2 separate regions of the Homo sapiens genome follow, and region 1 is reported to be linked to region 2. The links are microRNA targets in miRTarBase. Many come from high-throughput screens and were not tested one by one. Region 2 holds a microRNA gene; the other region holds the end of a gene's coding sequence.
Evidence for each region. The annotated mature microRNA hsa-miR-3660 reads ACUGACAGGAGAGCAUUUUGA and lies in region 2 at 2,197-2,217, shown strand. An mRNA with a match to its seed (bases 2 to 7 or 8) in the 3' UTR can be bound and repressed. Matches are read on the target gene's strand: a 7mer-m8 pairs with bases 2 to 8, a 7mer-A1 pairs with bases 2 to 7 and ends in A, and an 8mer does both.

Region 1: miRTarBase lists ZNF776 as a target of hsa-miR-3660. The part of its 3' UTR that is shown has no 7-base or 8-base seed match.

The regions. Positions count from the first base shown.
Region 1 is chr19:57,754,147-57,757,146 of GRCh38, forward strand. It overlaps ZNF776 (zinc finger protein 776), which reads left to right. Exons shown (of 3, transcript NM_173632.4): 3 at 1-3,000. The coding sequence ends at 541. Among named protein-coding and RNA genes, the nearest start is that of ZNF776, 8.8 kb to the left of the region's middle.
Region 2 is chr5:90,015,322-90,018,857 of GRCh38, reverse strand. It overlaps MIR3660 (microRNA 3660), which reads left to right and starts at 2,138; the gene lies at 2,138-2,237.

The sequences.
Region 1 (3,000 bases), not on the chromosome of region 2:
GCGAGTTCACACTGGAGAAAGACCTTATCAGTGTGGAGAATGTGGGAAATCGTTTAATCACAAGTGCAACCTCATTCAGCATCAGCGAGTTCACACTGGAGAAAGACCTTTTGAGTGTACGGCATGTGGGAAGTTATTTAGGAGCAACTCCCACCTAAAGGAACACCAGAGAGTTCACACTGGAGAAAGACCCTATGAGTGTAAAGAATGTAGGAAATCATTTAGGTACAAGTCACACCTCACTGAACACCAGAGAGTTCACACTGGAGAAAGGCCATATGAGTGTAGAGAATGTGGGAAATGTTTTCATCAAAAGGGCAGTCTCATTCAACATCAGCAGATCCACTCTGGAGAAAGGCCACATGAGTGTGGAGAATGTGGGAAATGTTTTCATCAAAAGGGCAGTCTCATTCGACATCAGCAGATTCACTCTGGAGAAAGGCCACATGAGTGTGGAGAATGTGGAAAGTGTTTTCGTCAAAAGGGAAACCTCATTAAACATCAACGAGTTCACACGGGAGAAAGACATCATGAATGTTGAAAATTTGGCAGATCTGTTGGTAAAAAGAGCACCCTCATTCAACATTCGTGAGATCACACTGGAAAGCACTTATGAGTATGGAGAATGTGCAAAATCATCTAGCCAAAAGGTTGGCCTCATTCAACAATAGCAAGATCACACTGGGGAAAGGCTTTCTGAGTGTAGAGAATGTATGAAATCCTGTACATAGAAGTTTTGCCTCACCAAATACCAGAAGGGTCACACTGGAGAAAGACCCTATAGTTATGGGGAATTTGGGAAATTACCTAACAAGAAGTCCCACCTCACTGAACACTACTGAGTTCACAGTTGAGAAAGGCCATATGACTGTAAGGAATTTGTAAAATTATTTAGCCAGAAGAGCTGCATTACTATTCATCAGATAATTTACAATGGAGAAAGGCCACATAATAATTTCTCACATAATAAATGTGAGAAATCATTTCCGTACAGCTCTGCGCTCCATGTTCGTAAGAGTTCACACTGGACAAAGCCTTATGAGAGCAGCGAGTAGAAAATCCTTTGTGGGAAAACTCTGGTTTCATTAAACACAGGAGAGTTCATGCTAGAGAAAGGCCTCAACAGTGTAGCAAATATGGAAAGACATTCACTAGAAGCTCTGCCCTGCAAGTTCACACTAGAGAAAGCCCTTCTCAGTGAAGTAAATTTGGAAAATTGATTAGTCAAACCTCTATGCTCCTTCAAAATCAGAGTTCACACTGGATCAAGGCTTTATGGTGTGACAAATATGGCACATTCTTTATCTAAATGTCTAACATATTATGCACAGACAAGCTCCTGCTGTGGAAGTGCCTTTTGAGTGCAGAGCATTTGCGAGGGCTTCACTCTTCTTTCACTGGATACCAGAATGTTGACAGGAGAAAAATAACATAGATGTGTGGGAATATTACTTCTTGTCCAGTGTAACTGTGGGAGAGAGCCCTTATGAGGACACCATCAACCTATATTGAATGTCATATGTCCAGTAGCTGCATAAATTCCAGGTATATGGGAGCTGTATTGCATTTCTTATCCTGCGTATGTCCTTGCCAGATTTATTTCATTCTTAGGTCTCTGGCAAAAGCCATTTCATCTCTACCACTTGGCAGGTACCTACAGTGCATCACTCATGCACTCCATCATATTCCAGAAAAAAAGTTCAAGTTGTCTCCCATTCAGCAGTGGTATTTTTGAGTAGCCTCTGCACTCGTTCCTTTCTCATTTCTCTATGAAGAGTTAGGCCATGGACCTGACTCAGTTCTGGCCTAGAGCAGAAGTGTCCAATCTTTTGGCTTTCCTGGTCCACATTGGAAGAAGAATTGTCTTGTGCCGCATATGAAATACATTAACACTAATGATAGCTGATGAACTTTTTTAAAAAATCACACAAAAACCCTCATAATGTTTTAAGAAAGTTTACAAATTTGTGTTGGGCTGCATTCAAAGCTGTCCTGAGATACATGCGGCCCACAAGCTGCGGGTTGGACCAGCTTGGCCTAGAGAATTTTTCTGATTACTTGACAAGATGGGCTGTCTTTCCTAGGAATCTCATGATTGTCATGATTCTTAAAATGGAATTTTCCAGCCTCTTAACTCACCAACCCAAGTACAAGCTGCCTCTCATTGTTCTGGTTTCTGCTATGATGAAGTCCTTATTTAAGCTTCCTTCAATCTTGGGAATTGTATTGACTGTATTGTGTGAATTGTATACTCACTGCATTGTGTGGCTTAGATACAACATGGTTCTGGTACCATGAAGGATTCTGGTACCATGAAAGTTTGTTGGGGTTACTAAACTGTGTGACTCTTAGGGAACAGTATGAAGGCAGAATATAGCTCTGCATTTGTGGCCTAGTTTGGATGGCTGCCTAAGGCCTCCAAATAAAGACTTCAGGGCTTTGTGATCTTTATTTTTAGATGAAATAGTGCAATAATATGTGTTTTCATAAATCAACCTGAGTAGGGGACAGTTTTAGTGACACACTTTGGTGCTTCTGAGAACAGCACAAAATTATTCTCTTGTTTATAATGGATATTGCATTCTGCTCAGTACTGGTGAGGGAAATCTGTTCTCAAGTCCTACAGTGCATTCATGTGTCCTGAAGTCCAGAATTCTGTAGGATAGTGTCCTACGTTATAAGCCTGGAGAAAGAAATCATAATTCTTTAATTTTTATTTTTTTAGGGAAATGATGTCACTCTGAAACTCAGGCTGGAATACACTGGCATGGTCATACCTCACTGCGGCCTCAAACTCCTGGGCTCAAGTGATCCTCCTGCCTCAGCCTCCCGAGTACCTGAGATTAGCCCAGGTAATTTAAGAATTTTTTATAGAGATAGGGTTTTGCTATTTTACCCTGACTGATGTTCAACTCCTGGCCTCAAGTAATCCTCTAGCATACGCCCTTGAAAGCACTAGGATTACAGGTGTGAGCCACCATGCCCAGCCCAAAAATAATT
Region 2 (3,536 bases):
TCAAACAGAAAAATGGTGCTAAGTTTTCAGATGCTTCCACTAAACTTTAGTGGGAGATGATAGGGCAGCCCATTTAGATTTTGTGGAGCCTAAAGATCATGCAATTGTGGAAGTGTTTTTAATGGAAAATAATAACTATGAATTTAAAAACTGCTAGCATCCCTGCTAGGTTCTTGCAAGGGAGTCATTTAGGGGAAGAGCCCTAAATTTACATTAGCTTCTAGGTAAATCACCTACTGCTTCTTGGCATGCCCCACCACTCTTTTCAGCGTATCTTTCACAGAGTATGTTCTCAATACACATTTGTTGATGTGAATAGGAGTTAGAGAATTATTATAGATGCCACACTATTGTACATAGACAAAAGTGTTAGTCACAGTTCCCAGTGATCCCCATATTGCAGTAATGTGGAAATATAAATTTGACAGCATGTTAAATATAAAGGATAAAATCAACCCGTGATTTTTCTTCAGACACCCATTATAGCCCCTTGATGTAGAGACTACAAAGAGAATACACCTGGCTCTAACAAAACTTACTTCATTCTGGCTAGCCTTACAATTTGAGATGTTCCGACACTAGGTTCTCTTTTTATGTTCTTACTCTCTAAAATTTTTCTAGTGGAAATGGAGAAGTTGGTTGTCATTTCATTGCTACAATTAAAATTGATCACAGATTTTAATCATGATTACCATTTTGATGGTTAAAGAAAAGCGACTTGGTCATCTCAATAAGAAATACTTTTCAAACTCTTTTATGTTCAGTTTGAGACACCTGAAGATTAAGAGTCTATCAGAACATTCCCAGCCAGTTTGAGCCCTGTCACTAAATACTAACAACAACAAAAAAAAAGTAACAAAAAAAAAAGTTTCCTGTATTATGAAATCCAGAGAGGTAAAGTCTTATTGTAGGTCTTGATTGCCAAAAAAAAAAAAAAAAAAAAAAAAAAAAAACAACCAGCAAAAATGTGAGGGAAATAATACTTTCTGGTGTGCTAAAAGTGACTATGAAGATCAAACTCCTTTAAAATCAAGGAGGGTCTGTGTTTGTGTCAGTCAGCTGCTGTTTTCCTCATTGGAAAAGATTCTTACTTTGAAAACTTAGGTTTCACCAAGCTATTCTGCTACAGTCACCACGGCTTTAATGATTGCCCTTTCCTCAAGTCTATTCTTGTTTACTCCTCAACAGAAAGAACTTTAGATTAGTGTATGTATCTCCATCTTTTCGTGGCTACTGAACCTCCTTTTCTCCTGAACACCTTGTTGAGAACAATTTAAGAGTCTGGCTTTATACTTCCTCTGCAATAAAGAACAAAATGTTCCCGGCATGATAATTCTACTTGGGAATGGATAAGTTCTCATATGCTTAAATTCTGAAAGGTACGTGAGATGGTCTGTTCTAAATGACAGGTTGCCATGGTTACATCCTTCTGTGGCTCACATGGGGATAGGGCCAATTATCAAGTTTTGTTTGGTTGATTTTAAGTAGTTTGTTACCTGGATACTCAACAAATAAGAAAACTGGGGGGAAAAAAGACTTGTTTTCTTCTTCCCTAGAAAGGAAGCAGTCATTGTTGGGGGGAAAGCCCTTAAATTCCAAACAACATGGTAAATTATTTAGTTCAGATAGAGTTTCTAAATTGTTGACTTTATTTCGGGACTAGCATAAGGCCTGTGAACTAAGATAGCTTTAAATGCTATGAATTGGATTTTTTGTTAGCTCTGTTGATCCTATAATATTTGTGTTAAGTAATTCATTCCCCTCCTCTTTTCCAGATTTGTCTGGTGCTTTTCAAATGCGTGTGTGTGTGTGTGTGTGTGTGTATTTTAAGTTAGTCCTTTTGTGAGTTTTGCTGCTCGGCCTCATTCCTCCCTCCCATGGTGGAAGTAAGATTGTTAATTAATGATATTCCAGAGGCAATTTCTGGAGTGACTATTGGAAAACCCTTCTTAATTAACAAAATGATAAATTCCCCACTGCAGCAGTGCTGCAAGTGAAGTTCATCTGTGTCATTCAAAATCTATGATTTTAAAACATTCTCTGACATTTTTTTGAGGATATTGGGCATTTAAAGTCTGGATCTTTTATCAAAGTTTCCGTAGCCAGCTGGAGAAGGAGAAATGCAGAGTGAAAAGGAGAAAGAAGAACTGGACAAAATTAAAATGCTCTTCTGTCATTGTAATAGTTCATATGGGCACTGACAGGAGAGCATTTTGACTTTGTCAAGTGTGTCTGCTACTCATTTATTCCATCTCCTGCTTGTTACCGAAGTTTCAGATTAAATGTAAAGATATGAATGTATTGCCATAATAAATTTATAAGTGGATATTTAAAGAGCAAAGATTTGAATGACACAAATGAACCTCGGTATAGCAGTAAAGTGGACAGGATTTGCAGAAAGATGCCACAGAGTCAGAAATGACTGCTGGAATCGCCTTAATTAAAAAAAAAAAAAAAAAAAAAAACTAAAAAAACTTGAGCTTCATAAGCCGCCATAGAAGGTGTCTAATGTGAAATTAGGCTTACTTTACATTATTTATGCCACTTTAAAACGATGTAATAAAAGCTTTCAAAAATCTGATTAAGCTGTATTATTCAAATACAAGGCACTTACTTAAGCAATGGAAAAGCTAAGCTGTTAAATTTGGGGGCAGGGAGTAAGATTCTAGACAAAGTTAAAGCAGCATGTTTTTAAAAATGTATGGTTTCTTTTTAAGATATCTAGAAAATACAATTAACTTTTTGAAATCATATTTAGTTGAGTGAATAGTAATCCCAATGTAGTAAACTGTAGAGATAACACTTTCTAAGGATGCCTTATCTTACTTCCCACAAGAGGCTTAGGGTTCCTTTAAATGTCATGGGAAAACTGCATAACCTAAGATACTCCTGTAGGGTTTGCATAACACTGGTATGCATAATAAGAAAGAAAGCAATGTGAGGGGGCACCCAGCTTCTATGACCTGATGTGTGGTGAGGACCCAGAGCACAGGGCTGAGAAGAAGCAATGGGGAGTTAAAATGAGGACATGGGGATAAATTATTTGACATGATCCTGAGCAGACCTGACTTTTGTAATGACACTCAAACAGCAGATAACCCTGAAGGCAATCTGAAAAAGAAGAATACAGTGGTCACACTAGCAGATAGGAAAGAGATGAGTAAGCTTTTCTGAATTGTCTGAATCACTACTGAAAAGCACGTCCTTCGACTGTGAACACCACTTCTCTTTTCTTCTCATGTCTGCTGCCCTTCGGCTAATACAGTGTAAGAATTCATTTTGTTTATCTGCTCCAACACAGAATAACTCCAGTGAGGATAAAGTTATAAGGATTGTAAGGAAGAGGGAAAGAAAAATGTATACAAAAATAACCATGGAAGTTTCAGAATAATAGCATGAGAAGAAAAAATTTGTTTAGGTTGGTTTTCTGATATTATCCAAATAAATATTACTTTCAAAATCATAATATCTGCCTTGAGCTTAAATGGAGAGAAAGGAAATGGAAAAGTTCCTTACTGAATCTGAGATCTAGTGTT